Regions from separate parts of the Homo sapiens genome. Here all the other regions are linked to region 1. The links come from fine-mapping of genetic effects on gene expression. A gene starts in region 1. Each other region holds a variant in brackets. All regions are shown on one strand. Distances are from middle to middle. Region 1 holds the start of ELP1 (elongator acetyltransferase complex subunit 1). Region 2 overlaps CTNNAL1 (catenin alpha like 1). Region 3 overlaps ELP1 (elongator acetyltransferase complex subunit 1).

Region 1 (6,468 bases):
ATCCAGGCTGGAGTGCAGTGCTGCCATCATGGCTCACTGCAGCCTTGACTCCTGTGCTCAAGCAATCCTCTTACCTCAGCCTCCTGGGTAACTGGGACTATAGGCACATGCCACCATGCCCAGCTAATTAAAAAAAAATTTTTTTTTTTTGGTAGAAATGAGGTCTTGTTATGTTGCCTAGGTTTGTCACAAATTCCTGGCCTCAAGTGATCTTCCCGCCTCGGCTTCCCAAAGTGCTGGGATTACAGGCATGAGCAACTGTACCTGCCTTAAGTGTTACTATTTTGGACAGAGATTTATCATTGAAACTTCAGAAGTCTTAAGTGTTATTGTAACTTGTAGACTATCGTTTAAGAGAGGTGCATGCTTTTCTAAGTCCACTAGTTTCTTGAGTGAGGAAAAATCAGTAATTGTAAAGCACAATAAATCAGTAATTATTAGGGGACTTCAGGCCTACAAAGGGGGGTTTGAATAAGGGTCTCCTAGAATAGTGAGAGCAATTAGCAGAAACTCTTAGTATGAACTCAGTAAATGAACGACTTAAATCATCCACAGAAACTTTCCCAACCAGTGGGTTTGTTAAGACATTTTAACATGTCACTAAATTCTCCTTGGCATGATACTCTTTTAATAATCTGTCCATTTTGCCTAGAGTTACAGAGGGTAGAGATAGCATTCTATATAACCGAGTGTTGTGTGCAGGTACAGGGGGTGGGTACATGAGTATTACATTGACAATGCTTTAGGAATGGAAAAACAGTAAGGAGCAAATATATTTTCTCGTATTCATGTTTTTGTTTTTGTTTTTTTGAGACGGAGTCTTGGTCTTGCTCTGCCGCTCAGGCTGGAGTGCAGTGGTGCGATCTCAGCTCACTGCAACCTCCGCCTCCCAGGTTCAAGCCATTCTCCTGCCTCAGCCTCCCGAGTGGCTGGGATTACAGGTGCCCACTACTGTGCCTGGCTAATTTTTGTATTTTTATAGAGATGGGTTTTCACCCCGTTGGCCAGGCTAGTCTCAAACTCCTGACCTCATGATCCACCCACCTTGGTCTCCCAAAATGCTGAGATTATAGGCGTGAGCCATTGTGACCGGCCCATGTTTTTCTTTTTTTTTTTCTAACTCCCTTGGGAATTTTTTTTCTGTTTAATTTACATGTGGAAATATATGGTAAAGAAGAGTTAGTCACCTAAATTTTACAGAACTCGACATACTAGTTTAATACAACTAGAAGGGACAAAATATCTTGTTATATTGCTATTAGAGTTCTCCTTTCAAAGGCCTGCCTTCCCCCTCCTCCATCCTGGGCATTATAGGGATAGTAGCACAGAACCTAATATAACAGATACTACACCTCCTGAGATACCTAATTTGGGGGAGCTGAGAATTTCTTTAGGTGAAAGTATACCTAAAATTAGCACCTCAAACTGCTAGAGAAGTATGCTAAGCATATGCTACTGGATTCTAAGGTTCATTGGATCTGTCATTACCATGAATATAGAGGATGTAAGTAGATAATCACAGAATTACAGGAACATACCCGCTTAAATTTCCCAGAGACCTTGTTCTGAAGTCTGCTACAGTTGGTACTGATCTGATAGGAAATGCTTTTAATTGTTTTTCCACTTTGAAGAACTGGATGAGATTCTGCCAATGTGATGACACATATTCTACAAGGAGAAAAAGTTGATCCTGTGTGATTGCTTGGAATAATTTTTCCTCCCATAACTCCTATTGGAACAAGAATGTATGAACTGGTATTTGTTTAGTCAAACTATCATCTTCCCCCTTTTTCCTTTGGCTACTATTGGGGCATAACTGTAGAATAGAGAATACAATAATAAAAGAGAAAACAAGATTGAATTTCTTTCCCAGGAAAGGGAAGAGTACCAGAGGTCTTTAGGTAGGTAGCACTGGGGTAGAAGACAAAGAAATAAGGCATGCCTGTGTATACGAGATACCATACATGTCTCTACCGTAGCCCTTTCTGTGGGCTCTGAACAGTTCAGTAGTTGGGCACAGACTGGCCACTTCAAGTAGCAGCTGATGATGTGGTCCTCCATTTGGATGTTTGAGTAATCAAATTTATATGTTCAGAGTGGCCAGGCACTGGAATACTCATTCTTGCCAAACAAACTCCTATAATAATACCATTTCAACACAGTAGAAGATAATTAATGCATGTTTGTTTAGTGAACATTTGTTCAATCCAAGACCACAAGACCATACCAGGCTACAATACCAGGAAAAAAAAATTTTTGATAATTTAAAATTCCCAATTTGCTTACCGGTTAGAGTGCTGTAGTATACAGTGGTCCTCACAAAATTTTCCTTTGACATCTAGAAGAATACATGAGTCTGTTGGTGGCTGAAATCAATATTTACTACCACTATGTGGTACTTTCTTTGGGTCATATAGTTGATAATGAAGACTGGACACATACATGCTGCATGCTGATCACGGGTATCCCTTCATTACTCAAAAAGACATACCTAAAGGTTTCCTAGAAAGTATTTAAAGAGATCTGGCCCAGATAGAATAATTTATTCAACATTAAGGTAATTAACTCCTTGCTCCATCTTACTTTACACTCACTTCAAAATGAGTACACGTAGTATTTTTGCTAGGAAAATGCAATTAGCATCCCGTTCTTTATGATATATATTTTTTGTTGGTGGTTTCCAGGACTGTCCTGATGTTGGTGCAAGTCCGACATTCTGGGAAACCCCTCAGTCATGGGTGAACTAGGACAGGTTGGTCACCCTATGTTTGGCCAACAGAAAATATGCTACAATATATATTTTTTAAACTGAGTATAACCATTATCACTGAATGAAAGGAAGAAAGGAGAGTCCCCAACGATGCTCCCACCACTGGTTCTGCTTACACAAAACAGTACAAAAAGAATACCTACTTCTAAGTGGCAGATGGCGTCTCTTAAGGTAAATGTATAGATTCTTCTTCTTTCTAAATGTCTCTAATCTAACCCACCCTCTTCTCGCCATCCCTACTGCCTCTACCTTAGTTTCGATCTGATCATTTAAATAATTTTATGTATCGCTACTCCCTGTGAGAGTGAGCCCCTCAATCCCTCCAGGCACTTAAGGACTGTTGCAACCTAGCCCTCCGCCTACCTTTGGGGCCTCCGTTTAGAGTACTCATCTTACTGCGAGCAACACCCTAGAGCTCGCACTGCAATCGCCGGCCCCAGAATGCGCCCTGAAGTATTTCAGGCCACCAGGTCTTTGCAAATGCCATTCCCTGGGGCTAGACGGAACACAGAAGTCCAGTGCCTTCTGACGTGGGGACGGAGAGCCAGGGAGAGCGCGCGTGGCTTATGATCTGTCAACATAGTCTACACAGCATTAGGCCAGTGCGGCCAAGGAGGGATCAACATCACTCCGCACTTACCCGGTTTGTACCAGCGAGTGAAGTATCGATCCACGAGCGAAGGCACCACCGGCTCCGCGGCTTCGGGCTCGGTAGCCATGGCGACCTCCGGCGCCGCCACCCCCGCCCTCCGGGACCCCAGCGCTTCCTCCGCGCAGCCCGGACTGGGCGTGCTCTTCCGGCGCACAGCGCGTGTCGTGCGCACGCGCGCTGCTCTCAGGTCCGCAGGTTCCACCCCCCCCCCCGCCCCCCCCAATTACAGTGCTTTGGGGTTCGACATCAAAACAGAGATCAAATACAAAAGTTTGGGCAGATGGGCAAGAGGGCAGAGGGACAGGGGACGCGGCCAATGTAGCTCCTCTACCTCTACGGTGCCAGGCCTACAAAGAAGGCCGGCCGCCGTAAGTGACCAGAAGCGGGCCCGGCCTCGCCCCCTCCGCCTGGTGACGTCACTCCCGCGCCGCACTCCCAGTGCTGCGGCTGCCTAGTTGACGCACCCATTGAGTCGCTGGCTTCTTTGCAGCGCTTCAGCGTTTTCCCCTGGAGGGCGCCTCCATCCTTGGAGGCCTAGTGCCGTCGGAGAGAGAGCGGGAGCCGCGGACAGAGACGCGTGCGCAATTCGGAGCCGACTCTGGGTGCGGACTGTGGGAGCTGACTCTGGGTAGCCGGCTGCGCGTGGCTGGGGAGGCGAGGCCGGACGCACCTCTGTTTGGGGGTCCTCAGGTAAGCGATCCATCCAGGGTAGGGGCACGGGAGTGGACCTCTCCGCCGGCGGTGTCCGGGTGAAGGAGACCCGGAGCCTCCTCTGCCTGCTGCGGGCCGGGGACTGGAGTGCGGGCTGCACCACCTCTTTCCTAGAGCCTTAAATTCTTTTTGCAGCCTTGCCACCTGCTCCATCGGGGGCGCTGGGAGGCGCGACAGCCCAGGGATGCCTGCTGCCCCTCCAGCCGGACTTAACCCAGCCTCTTGATTGCTTGCAGGGGGTTGATAATAACGCTGAAAGCGAGAGTATTAATTCACGATGGAAGGCGGCGGTTAATAGAGGCTCGGGTGCTGTGGTGCGGGTCCTTTCTCGCGTGTGAGACTTTTTCGTGGAGGTGGTGTCCTCTGTGCTTCTCCATCTAACGTGGTGTTTTACGTGGCTTTCTCTCCCGTTAACGATGATCTCCGTGGAGACAGTGGCTGAGTAATCTTCAGATCCCAGTACTTAGCAAGTGCTCAGTCGGTGTTGGATGTAGGCCACAAACCGGATCGTAAAGAATTCAACTGTATATTGACAGCCACGGAACTAATCAATGAATAGATCCGTATGAAGAGTAAGCAAAAAGGCAGCAAAGACAGTTTTTCAGCTTGGGGACATAGAGTAGAAATGGTCTGTCCCCAAATAGTGGGAACTGTCATTTGGGGGAAGAATAGCAAGTTCTTTGCTTTCCAGGTCGCATTTGATGTGCATGTGAGACATGCTTGTGATTCTATCAGGAGGTTGAAAATGTGGGTTTAGTGGTAAGTTTGGGCTAATTCAGTCAGGGCTAGGCATTTAGGCCTAATCAGCGTATTGGTGATCTACCTGGTATATGTAATCATGCATGTGATGTCTAGCCAAGAGGTGGATAGTCGAAGGAGCAAGGGAAGAAAATGAAGCAGTTATCAGGAAATTAAGAGAGAATCCACGATTGACCTTTGGTGTGGAGGGATCTTTAGCACATTTAAGAACTGCGAAGAGTTTGAATCAGTGGAGGCAGGAAGGTTGGAGGTTGCAGATGTCCAAGAAAGAGTACTAATAGGCCTAGGTCCTGTGGCAATATGGAGGATATTCCTTTCCTAGCCTGGAAAGAAGTGGAGGGAAGTCTTCCTCCGAGAAGATAAGGGAATAAGGCTGATGGGTGTGAAATTTCAGAGAAACTAGTTTTGAGGCGTTTTTATGATGTTTAAAGATGAAAAACGCAGCCAGGCACGGTGGCTCAGGCCTGTAATCCCAGCACTTTGGGAGGCAGAGGCGGGTGGATCACTTGAGGTTAGGAGTTCAAGAACAGCCTGGCCAACATGGTGAAACCCTGTCTCTACTAAAAATACAAAAATTAACTGGGCATGGTGCCGGGCGCCTGTAATCCCAGCTACTCCGGAGGCTGAGGCAGGAGAATCGCTTGAACCCGGGAGGCAGATGTTGCGGTGAGCCGAGATCGCGCCATTGCACCCCAGCCTGGGCAATAAGAGCGAAACTCCGTCTCAAAAAACAAAAAAACCTGCATGATATGTTAGAGGTTCAAGTAATTTCTAGCAGTTCTTGAATATAATTGTCACCAAAACTTACTAAAATCATTGTCTTCCTCACTTCCATCATATATAAACTTACCTTTCTCTTATCCCACATTATATATTATATAATTCCTATGACACTTGACATTATCTTCTGTGTACTATTAGGATTGATTCATCTTTATTCTTTCTATGTCATACATATGTGGGGTGCCAAGATGAGAGAAGTCTCCTTGGATTAAAGTGACAATAAGACCGGTGTGGTCCTTGTAATTGCTACCCCTAACATAAGTTAGGGACTTACAATCATAAGCCTTAAAGGGATCTGAATATAAATAACTAGCACAGTAACATTTTTTTCCCCTACTTAGGTAATGTTATGCATTTAAGCAAGCCTGATTTTGCCAGACCAAAGTAGATGTCTTGTTTAGCACTCTTTTCTCACGTTTTATATTGTCCTGGGAAAAGCCTGGCCAGAAGAACAAAGTTACTGGAAGTAGTTATGTCAGGTCATCAGGGTCCTTGAAATGTTGGTCATCATTTTGAAGTAAATTGTTGTCATGTCCCAGTATTTTCTCTTCCCCTTTAGAACAGTAAATGCTTTTCTATCTTTGATTTCAGTTTTTTTATGAATGTATAAAACCAGTTTATAAATGAATAGACCTGGTGAATATTAAAGTCATTTCAGATTCTCTTCAACTGCCAGTATATAAAAATGGATTTTCAAATAGTGCTAATCAGTGGGATACCCTTTTGTTTTTCCTCATGATTTTATAAAGATGTCCTAATATGCAAAAATAAAATGTTTCCCCATTCATTTGTT
Region 2 (6,468 bases), 26 kb before region 1:
TCCTTGACTCAATAATGAAAGTCTTAGGCTCAGTGATCTCAGTGACCTGTCAGCTCTAAAAGTCTTTTGTGAGCACTACCTGAAGTTAGTGTACTTTCGACTTCTGGGCATGAATATACCCTGCACTGTGTCTTTATCCTGGCTGGCTCTCTTTAAAGGCCAGAGGAATATTGTCTTCTGGCTTTATCAGTTGTCATCAGCCCATGACATCAGCCCAGTAGGGAGGCTGGAGGAGTGCCACAGGATGGCTATTTTTCTGGCATGTGACTGACTTTATGTACTTGTAAACGTGTTCCACGTGCACTGTGAGAAGCTTTACTAATAGCTGCAGCCATTCTGGAAAGAATATGGCATCAATCCTGGCCAGCTGATTCTCCTCTTTACCAGAACACCATTGAGCTTAGTACAGGTATCTCCTATAGTGTTTTCAGTGCTGAAGAGGTTTGTGTTTTCATTCTTGTAAACATGGGCTATGGCTGAGTTTTCATTACTTGTACTTCTTCCATGTCCCTAGGCCAGTGAGTTCATCATCATCTGAAATGGATATGGTTCTAGTTTTCTTGACCAAGGGCCTGAGCCCCCTTCCTCTTTGTGTTTGAGATGCTCGCAGTTTCTAAATCGGGCTGTTCTACCAGCATTTTGGTCTATTTTCTTCTCTCTTTTATTTCCATAAGAAGAGGAGTTATAACAGGCTTTTCCCCCCTCTCAAGAAAGATAGCAGTCATTTAACAGTTATTCTCTGCCTTAATCCCAGGCGATGTTCTGAGTAGCAATTACGGTAGCAATTAGAGGTTGATAAGCTTGGCAAGGGGGTTTTCTTTCTATAAATATAAGTAATTTTTTTCCTTAAAACAGAAAACAAACCCAAGTTGCATTTTCCATCAAGGGGTCTCTTCCTTCCTCTGAGATCTGAGTGCTAATCTCATGTTAGGGATAGAATTGGGTAGAAGTTGAAATACAGGTTCTGAAGTGGACTGCCTAGGTTCCAATCCTGCCTCTGCTATTTCCTAACTTAATCTCTCTATGCTTCAAGTTTTACATCTGCAAAATGGGGATAATGATGACAAAACTACCTAATATGGTAAGTGTGAAGATTAAATAAAATAAGTTAATTCACAGTAAATTCTCAACAAGTGTTACCTCTATCAGCATCAGCATCATGACCACTGTTACCTTGTGGTAAAACTAAATAGTTTATGAGAAAACATTAGGTCCAATTTCTCTTACTTAATCTCAATCTCTCCTACTTTCTGGCATCCATCTCTCCCTATGTCCTTTCTCCTACTCTAGGGAGGACTAGCCAGTCTGGCCCCACCGTAGAAAACCTCTAGATCTGCAGAAGCAAAGGTAAACTCCTTGCTTCTTTGTACAAATGAAGCTCATCCCTTCTCCAATGGTGAACTGACACCCTCTGAAAGATTCCTCTCACCGGACATCTAATGCAACATTAATTCAGTGTTCTCCTTTTCTGTCTCTGAGATTTGCCTTTCTTCTACCAAAGTTAGGCTCTTTAAAAAAAATAGCTAGGGAAGTTTAAGGAAAAGTAAAAGCCACAGGCTACTAGGGTCTTTGTGGGTAAAATTGTAAACATGATCCTTCAGAGGCCCGTGACTATTATAACCATAAAAATAATAGTAGCTGCCATCTCTTGAGAATGTACTGGGTTCCAGGTACTTTCATAAGTGCTGGATGTCCATTTTCTCATTTAATCCTCTCAGTAACCCTGGAGACAGGTATTATTTCCACATTTTATGAATGATGAAACTGAGGCTCGAAGTATCCCACAGTGAGTAAACTATAGGAGCTGGGACCCTTACTGAGGTTTGAATGATGCCAAAGATGAAATTTTATTAACTACCCATACTCTATTACTCAAGCAGTTAAACTCCACTCCAATCCTAAAGTTTTCTAATGAGAATGAACCAATTCTGTGAAAAATGCTCACAACTGCAGCTCTGAGTTCTGCTTTTTTCCCTCCCAAAGCTATTTCAGAAATGACTGAGAGATCCCAGGAAGTACAGGGCAAGGAACAAGTAATGACTGTATTCTTGTTTTGGTTGGTCCACTTATTGGCTGAGGATGGGGCCAGCTAAATTACAGAAGAGGTAAAACAATCTGTTAGTAATGGAATCCTGGGCACATTACCTGCCCTTTTGAGTTTGTTTCTTTATTTCAATGGATGTAAATGAAATAATGTGTAATACTGCTTGCACATCCTATGCCTGTTTTCAGACTATGTGAGCACTGTGGTTTCTTTTACTTTCAAGCTGGATATTATGTAAATAATCTCTTCTTTAGGTTCAGTTAACTTATGTTAAAAAAAATCAGCATTACCCAAACTTCCTAAGGACTGAACAGAAATTCCTTCTTACGTGGGAAACGCCTCAGCCTTCAGTCAATGAGACACTTATTGTTTCACTGGGAAAGTGCCTCTCTGTTCAGGAAGGGTTTATGTAGGTTTCACTGAGATGGAGTTGGTTGATTGTGTGTACTGCCTTTATTTGTCCTGATTTTTATCATGAACCTCATGAGCATAGCTTTTTCCTCAAAGAAGTCCATCTCTGGGTTAACCATTCTGACTGAACTGAATCCAGTGCCACAGTGTTGTTCTTCCTGTTATGCATGGTTGATGTGACAAACCTGCTCATTACCTTGCACCTGCCCACTGCTTTCCATACAAAGGTGTATTCTTCAGGTCCTGATTTCTCTTTGCTGCTGTTATGACTCCTGTTATGACTATTGTTGAAAAGCCTTTGCTGTATTCTAGCCACCTTAGTTCTGCTCTGCATAACTTGCCTCCTGTGATTGGCAAACTACCAGGCATACTTGTA[AGTAT/T]CATTCAACCATCCAACTAAGTGGTAAACATCACGCTAAGCAATAGGAGGGAGGCTTTAGTGTTCACATGCTAAAAGTTAGTCTGAGACCTAGGTCATTGTCCACCTTAACCCCAGACACTGAAATTTCACACTAGGACCTCCTGGGATTGTTTCAAGAAGGTAAAAATCAATACTTGTCTTCCTGTCTTCTGCTTTCATCCCATTCTGCCTTCTCACCCAAACCTCCAGGGAGGCTGTGGTCCTTGTATTAGAAGGGACCACACCTAAAAGACTCCACTTTTCCTTAGTGGTGAATATGTGTCAGTTTAGAATTTGAGATTATTTTGGATAATAAGTGTCAGAAAAAAGCCTTATCTCAGAGCTTGCGGTCTCTATCCTTCCTTTAAGGAAGCTGAATTCCCTTTGTTCTATTTCAATCATTTCAGAGTAAATATGACTACGCTTCAGTTTATAGAGATGCAGCTCTAACTAAACTATGTAGGGCAGTTATGATCACAATCGTGCCAAGAATCTTAATTTGGTTTTCAGTTCTGTAACTACTTTTCTCATTTTCCTGGCAGCCCTATTTCATAGCCCTGCATTTACATTATCGTTTGGCAGATTGGATGCCACTAAAAATGGGGGTACAGGAAGATAAACATGTTCGTGGGTAAAGATGAGTTTGTTTGGGGATGGTAGGAGCCTGCAACAAGGGAGTGATCTATCCAGAGAAGAGACGATGGTCTATACTAGGGTGATGATAGTCAAGATGAAGATAAGGGGACTAAGAAGAATTTAAAAACTAATATTGGTAGGGTTTATTGGTCAATTGAATATAGAGGTGAGGGAGAGGGAGGAGTTGGAGGATGATAGCTGGGTTTAGATTAGAATACCTCATTCCTGCTCCTGAGTTTAGCTGATAAGCTGCCTATGCTTTAGTGGTCAGGGATTCATTTTAAGTGGGTCTGGGGACATTAATTTTTTGATTGATCATACCATATAGAGTGCCTCCAGAACTAAAGATAGCTAATTATAAGAAATGTGAATCAGGGATAATTTAGCACATTTTCAGTGAAATGATAAGGCTTTTCCATTCTTGGGGAATTCGATTTATTTTGTAGATATACAGAAAGGCTCTATATATTGTAACTGAGAACATTTCTCAATTAGGTTTTCATAAGAAATAATTTTAGTGCTCCCTTAAGATGAGAGGGCCTTTAAACTTAATTGTGAACTTAATTTATCTGAAGGTATAAACTCAGAAGATGGCACAATTGTAGTGTTGACTAAACAGGATTTAGGGAGTATTAAACATACAATACCTCGTTGAGGACAGTGCTTTGAAGACAATTCTATATATCAGATCTGTACTAAGTATATTTTCTCCAAATAGTCCTGTTTTTCCAACTATTTTTAATGTTTATAATATGATAGAGTTTTGTTTATGCTACTTCTTTGATATAACAGCTAAACATAATTTAGCCAGTTTATTTTATTATTATTATTATATTTTGGAGACAGGGTCTCACTTTGTCACCCAGGCTGGTGTGCAGTGGTGTGATCATAGCTTACTGCAGCCTCAAACTCCTGGGTTCAAGGGATCCTCCCACATATCTAGAACTACAGGTGCTGGCCACCATGCCCAGATTTTTTAATTTTTTTCCCCCAGAGATGGGAGTCTCGCTGTGATACCCAGGCTGGTCTTTTTTTTTTTTTTTTTTTTTTTGATATGGAGTCTCGCTCTGTCACCCAGGCTGGAGTGCAGTGGCGTGATCTCAGCTCACTGCAAGCTCTGCCTCCCGGGTTCATGCCATTCTCCTGCCTCAGCCTCCCAAGTAACTGGGACTACAGGCGCCCACCACCACACCCGGCTAATTTTTTTTTTTTGTATTTTTAGTAGAGACAGGGTTTCACCGTGTTAGCCAGGATGGTCTCGATCTCCTGACCTCATAATCTGCCTGCCTCAGCCTCCCAAAGAGCTGGGATTACAGGCATGAGCCACCATGCCCAGCCTACTCAGGCTGGTCTTCAACTCCTGGCCTCAAGTAACCCTCCCGCATTGGCCTCCCAAAGTGCTGGGATTATGAACATGAGCCACCGTGCCTGGCTGAGCCAGTTTATTCTTTTTTTTTTTTTTTCTGCTTAGAATCAACGGCAATAATTAGATTCACATGGAAATAACATCTATAATTAGCCGAGCGTGGTGGTGTGCACCTGTAGTCCCAGCTACTCAGCTACTCAGGAGGCTGAGGCACGAGAATCGCTTGAACCCAGGAGGTGGAGGTTGCAGTGAGCCGAGATTGCACCACTGCACTTTAGCCTGGGTGACAGAGTGAGACTCTGTCTCAAAAAAAAAAGAAGTGGGAAATAACATCTATAAAAAAATTGGGAAATAACATCTATAATTAACTATAATTTAGATCTCTTGTTAGTATTAGATTGCTTTTTCTTGTGTTATTGTCAACTTGTTTGGTTTCTGTTGGAACTGGGGGAAAGAGGAAGAATCTTACCTGCATAGTATGTGGAGGAGGCCTATCTGAAAAAATGATCAATTTTGCAATTATCCTCAAATTCGTATAAATCATGCAGAGTCTAACTAAAGGATGGGAATAGGAAGCAAAACAAAGTATCTGTAAGAGGACCAGAGGGATTAGAACTATCAAGTGATAAATACTACTAGGTGGATGAAAATAGTAGCAAATCAGGTTACATAAAAGCTTTCTTTTCATTGGATTTATTTCTCAATGCATTTATTTATACATTCTACTTGCTTTAACTCTGTGGTATCTTAGAGATATAAGAGATACCGAAACAGTTGGTTTTGCCCCAACTTGTGGAGAGTAAATATGAACATTTTAGGGCCATGGGCACTATAGATGATTACTAAGTTAGATAATACAAGATTACTCCTGTAGCTGATGACATTTAAGTAATGATAGTGCCCTTTCAAAATTCAAAATTCTTTTTTCTTTATTATTTATTTATTTTTAGTACTTTCCCACTTTGTTTTTTTTTTTTTTTTTTTTTGAGACAGTCTTGCTCTATCACCCAGGCTGAAACAAAACAAAACAAAAAACAGAAAAAAGAACAGACTACAGGCATGCACCACTACGCCTGGCTAATTTTTGTATTTTTAGTAGAGATGGGGTGTCACCATTTTGGCCAGGCTGGTCTTGAATTCCTGACCTTGGGTGATCCACTTGCCTTAGCCTCCCAAAGTGCCAAGATTACAGGCATGAGCCACCATGCCCGGGTTCCTACTTCTGTTTAATGTGCCCTTTATAATATGCTAAGAGCACTTTTTAAAGGATATTATGGACAGGATTCAGACTTTGAATTAAGATAGATGGTGAATTTTGAAATTCTGAGTGACCGGAAGACTATCTTCTGTTAATATTGCAACTAAATCGAGCACTTTTCACATCAGAGCTTAGAGCCAAGGCATGAAAATAGCCTCTTCCTTTTTAAGTTTTTTCCCCTCACCATTCTGAAATCAGAAAGCCATTAATTAATAAAATTCCCTTACAATTTTGACATTACAAGGAAATGATTTGAATCATAAAGCTATTCCCAAGTACCATTAACTCACTCTTAGTAACAGTTCTTCTTCTAGATCAGCACTGTCCAAGAGAAACAGAACGTGACACACATA
Region 3 (5,000 bases), 26 kb after region 1:
TTATGATATTTAATTGCCTTGGGTTTTTGTTTTTTTTTTTTTTAATCCTATACTGGTTTGTACGAGCCATTCCTTTTCCCTTACTGACTTGAAGAGTCAGTTATTTAAGAATAACATTGGACTCTGGAAATAACATAGTATGTTATACATTGTTAACATGTTTTACTCTTTTCATAGCCTTTACACATATTTTCAGTTGATCTCATCCCTCCTAGGAGCTGTGTCAGAGATGGGGTTTTCCTCTTTTGTAGATGAGGGAACACAGTGTCAGAGGTTTTGTAATTTGTTTGAACAAGAATGGACAAGGACCTCAACACAGGTGTTCTAGCTCCTAATCCACTTGTCCTGCCACAGCCCCATTGCTGTCAGTTCTTCATTACTTTCCTGATGTGCTGGAGAATCTGAAATTTGTTTTTACTTGTGAGTTCTGTGGTTATGTCATAAATTCTGCTGGCATATGGCAGTGTTAGCCTTGTTTTCAAATATCTTTTGAATTCTCAGAAAAAGCCTAGATAGTTGCCAAGAGAGAATAATCAAAATTAATTAATTTAAATGGGAAGTCCTTACTTTCATATCAGCTTTTCTGTTAAGTCAGCAGCCCACTGTGTACATGGATCCTATCTGGATGTATCACCAGTTTCTCTGATTATAGTTTCAGTGTGTAAAATGCTGTTACAGTCCTCCTTAAACTTTTCAAAATAGCTTTAAAAAAAAGTGCAAATATGTTCATTGTCAAGGCAAAAAGAATCAGATGTAAGCTTTTGTGGGACTTAACTGTATGATGCTAATGAGTTTATATGTCACTTTATGATGTATGGTATGTTTTGTTCTGCATTCACTTAAAAAATAGCTTTATATCATTCATCTATTTAAAGTGTACAATTCAATGGTTTATATGTGTGTGTATGAATATATATACATATGTATATGTATATATATGTATATTCACAGAGTTGTACAGCCATCACCACGATCAATTTTAGGACGTTTTTATCTCCTCAGAATGAAACCCTGTACCACCCTGCATTCATTTTACTTGAGAGAAAACTCCCTGTGATGAGATAGGACAGGTTGAGAGCTCCACTTTTGAAAGATTGTTCGGCATCAATATGTGGGGTTGGCCATAGGTCAGGGGCACCTGGAGGCAGAGATTCTAGTTAGGAGAAGCTGTTGTCAAGTGTCCAGGCAGGAGCTAGCAAGAGCTTGAGCCAGAGCAGTGTTCATAGAAATGGAAAGAAGAGAAAGATCATAACAAATCCATGAAGTAAAAACCCTGAGAAGTTAAAGAACCCACTGGGGAGAGTTTGGATATAAGAGAATCTGGAAAAAGAGATCTTGGACTGGAACAGGTCAGGGCTCCGTGCCCAAGTGGAAGGGAAATTAAGAACTTGGAGTCAAGTGGTAGACATTTGAGTGGTGTGGAGACAAGTTCGTTGCCAAAGTTTTCAAAGATGGTGTTTGATGCATCCTGAGTATCACTCCTTTTTCCCCCTCATTGCTTCTTGATTGTTTATTATATGCCAGGCTTTTTTCTAGTACTTGGCTTGTTGTACTAGAAAACTAGTTGTACTTTGTCTACAACTTGTTGTTCTAGGTGTAGACAAAAGATATCAATTAAATATGATCTATCAGATGGCAAGTGCTGTGGAGAAAAATTAAGCAAAATAAGGGGTAGGGAGAGCTTAAGGATAAGGGTTTACAGGGGGAAGGTGTCTTTCCTATTTAGTGTGATCCCAAAGGCCTCTCTGTGAAGGTGACATTGAAGCAGAGACCTGGTGAGAATCACAGTGGGAGCCACGCAGACATCTGGGGTAAGAGCGTCCCAAGCATTCTATGCTTGAAGGCAAAGAAGAAAAAAGAAAGAGCGTTCCAAGCAGAGTAAAAAGCAACCACCGAAGTGCCTGTTGTGTTTAGGAAATAGCCAGGAGGCCAGGGTGGCTGCAGCAGAGCAAAGGAGGGGAAGGTGGTGGGTGAGTTCAGAGTGGTGATGGGAATCTGCTCTTGTAGGGCCTTGCGGCTTTTACTCCGAGTGAGATAGGAGCCACCAGAGGGCTTAGAACAGAGGAGTGCAGTGTTCTGGCTGAATTTTTTAAAGGCTTGCATTGGCTGCTGTGCAGTGAATAAACTGGATGAAGAATAGAAAGAAAATGTCTTTTAAGCAGGTGCTTAGGACTTTGGAGAATTTGAGGATATTGAGAGGTGGTTGAAGACAGTGGAGGAAATTGTCCACAGCACTGGGCTGAGAGGGTAGCCCCTTCACCTGGTCTTGCTGAGATGTGGCCTTTGTCAGGGAAGATTATGACTGATGTGTTCTTAAGAGGAAAGCAGAAATTTTAAGGAGGTTGAGATGTGATTATTTTCTAGATTGCTGTTTGCCTTCTAGAACTCATTAATTGCAGACACCATCCCCTTAGTATTAGGTGAAATCTTATAATTTACGATGATAATATTTGCATTTTTGTTTTCCAGGTGATTGTCCAAGTGCTGACCCTACAGTGAAACTGGGAGCTGTGGGTGGAAGTGGATTTAAAGTTTGCCTTAGAACTCCTCATTTGGAAAAGAGATACAAGTAGGTTCTTAATTATCTTGGGCTTCTGGGAACAGAATCAGCCAGCATGCAGTCCTAAATTCAGCCATCTGATAACAGTTCTATGCCTGTTGCTGAGTGGAACAAGAAATAAAGACAACACCCAGGCCCTGACTTTCGGATCTGATTGGAGAAGCCAGTCA[T/G]GTAGTTTGTCTGAATGCCATATAATTTGATAGGTAGCAGGAGAGCATGAGTTGTAAGCCAGCCTAGGACCTACTCCCAATAGCGCTTGGTTCTCCAGGAAAAATCATGTGGGAAAGATGGAGATGACAATGATAAGGCGGAGCTGCATTCTCTTACATAAATGGGGATGTATGGGTTGTTAACATGGATGACCTAATGCAGCCTCTGTCTTTGCTCCATCCCAGAATCTAGAACTTCTGGGTGCTGTGCTTTGAGGCTCCTGGGATGGAAATCAGAATGCATTCTTCCATTGAAACAGTATTGTAAACAATTGGATGTTATTGAATACCTCAGGTACACTATAGGCATTTGCAAAATGACCTAGAAACCAAATTATAATGCCACATCTGTGAGAGAACTTTTTTAAAAAGTACCACTTATTGAGTACTTACAGATTAAAAAAACAAAGTGTAGAGGTTAGGTAACTTACCCAAGGTCATGGACCTGGTAACTAGAGAATTTAGGGTTTGATTCTATTCTGTTTGATAAGTCCATGTTCTTCATTACTAAACTACTCTGCCTCCAGGGAACATTTATTGTTAGATTAATAGAAATAATTAACTGAGTACAACAAATAGCAGAATTTAATAAATAATGTTTCTTAAATATATGTGATATATTTAATAAATACAGCAGAAGTGTTCAACCTCTGTATGATTTTGAGGCTGCCTGTATAATGCTTAGTAGTTTTTAAAGAGCATTTACATGCATTATTTCACTTCATAGACTTGAAACCACTAGAGTAGAGATAGAGGACAAATTAGAAAGTATGAGGCAGTTTAGAATATAGTTTCATTTAAAAAAAATTGATGGGGATAATGCCAATTCGTCTGAGATTTCACAGAAGACATGAGTACTCATCGTGATCTTGGGGAAGGGATAGGTTTGGGGTTGGCAAAGAATTGGGAACATTGGGTCTGGTGGGGAAGAAAGTGTCAGTGAAAACCAGAGGTGGGACTGATCCTCCATGGGATACTCTATGTGAATGCAATGGAGAGCCTGAGTCCGGGGAGAGATGTTTGAGGAGGAAGATCAGGCTAGTGACCAACTTCTTCAGTGGGAGCTGCGGATTTGCCACCTGATCTAAAAGGCAGGAAGTAGCCATTGTCGGTTCCTACGTGAGGTGACAAGAACAGTGCGCTGGTCAGGTGTATAAATGCTACCAAAGAATGCATTAGAGACATGGAGACCATCTCTCAAGCTAGTCAGTCAGTTTAATGTGAGGTGCTTAGGAAAGGACCCATTCTACTGCAAGTGACATACCTGCCAGAGCCTGGTTTGAATGCTGGTAAGTCATGGCAGTGGAAAAGCTCTGGGGTTCATTAGTGTAGGGACTAGGGCTGGTAATTTTCTTGTGTAGTCAGTTTCCTCAAGTGTTCTCTTCAAATTTAAAGATTTCAGGGTATGAGAAATTTAGGGAAAATATAAAAACGTATTCTTAAGCCAGACAAAGATTAATTTTAGATTTTGTAGTATTTGGTAGTATCTCAGGTTTTGTCCCTCCAAATAATTAGGAGTGGACTGTATACAAGATGCTTCAGTCTTCCTTCATCCAGGAACGTCTCAGTGGTTTTTAAGTTTTATTCATGTCTTGGATATTCTTCAATATTTACAATAGAATCCAGTTTGAGAATAATGAAGATCAAGATGTAAACCCGCTGAAACTAGGCCTTCTCACTTGGATTGAAGAAGACGTCTTCCTGGCTGTAAGCCACAGTGAGTTCAGCCCCCGGTCTGTCATTCACCATTTGACTGCAGCTTCTTCTGAGATGGATGAAGAGCATGGACAGCTCAATGTCAGGTATTGCAGTTTTTCCCTGTACTCCACATGTTAAGCAAATGGAGTTAGGTTTTTGTCTTTTATGAGCATACAACTTTTGACTTCTATTGATCAAGGTTGAGGAGCAGTAGCTTTCTTGTTAGACACACTTAACAAGAAGGTTAAGTCTAGTTATGAGCCATGTCAAAATAACAGACCAAAAATATATCAAAAAGTGGTGAAAAATAGGATAAATATTAGTAGATGAAGCAACTTTTTAAAGATATGTTAAATATTTTAATTTAGCATCTACCCACATTTTTCCAGCGTGATTGTTATATGTTATAATTGATTTTAATAACTGTCAAGCATAATTAGAGTGGCTAATTCTCATGGGCTAATGTGATGGGAAGAAATTTTGTATAAATGCAGTCATGCGCATATATGTGTGTGTGTGTGTGTGTGTGTGTG

The links. PIP is the estimated chance that this variant, and not a neighbour inherited with it, causes the effect. A credible set is the group of variants that fine-mapping cannot tell apart.
Region 2: its variant is the best candidate, but not a certain one, in a credible set for the expression of ELP1 in sun-exposed skin (GTEx, PIP 0.87).
Region 3: its variant is the best candidate, but not a certain one, in a credible set for the expression of ELP1 in whole blood (INTERVAL, PIP 0.82).

The regions. Positions count from the first base shown.
Region 1 is chr9:108,931,508-108,937,975 of GRCh38, reverse strand. It overlaps ELP1 (elongator acetyltransferase complex subunit 1), which reads left to right and starts at 3,852. Exons shown (of 37, transcript NM_003640.5): 1 at 3,852-4,112. ABITRAM (actin binding transcription modulator) reads right to left here and starts at 3,576. Exons shown (of 6, transcript NM_017832.4): 1 at 3,411-3,576; 2 at 2,287-2,338; 3 at 1,539-1,668. The coding sequence starts at 3,489. RefSeq lists a silencer at 3,350-3,629 and an enhancer at 4,380-4,609.
Region 2 is chr9:108,957,439-108,963,906 of GRCh38, reverse strand. The region is part of intron 11 of CTNNAL1 (catenin alpha like 1); the gene reads left to right. Among named protein-coding and RNA genes, the nearest start is that of ABITRAM, 26 kb to the right of the region's middle. The variant AGTAT/T (reference allele first, on the strand shown) is at 2,832.
Region 3 is chr9:108,905,874-108,910,873 of GRCh38, reverse strand. It overlaps ELP1 (elongator acetyltransferase complex subunit 1), which reads left to right. Exons shown (of 37, transcript NM_003640.5): 13 at 2,470-2,569; 14 at 4,389-4,571. Among named protein-coding and RNA genes, the nearest start is that of ELP1, 26 kb to the left of the region's middle. The variant T/G (reference allele first, on the strand shown) is at 2,731.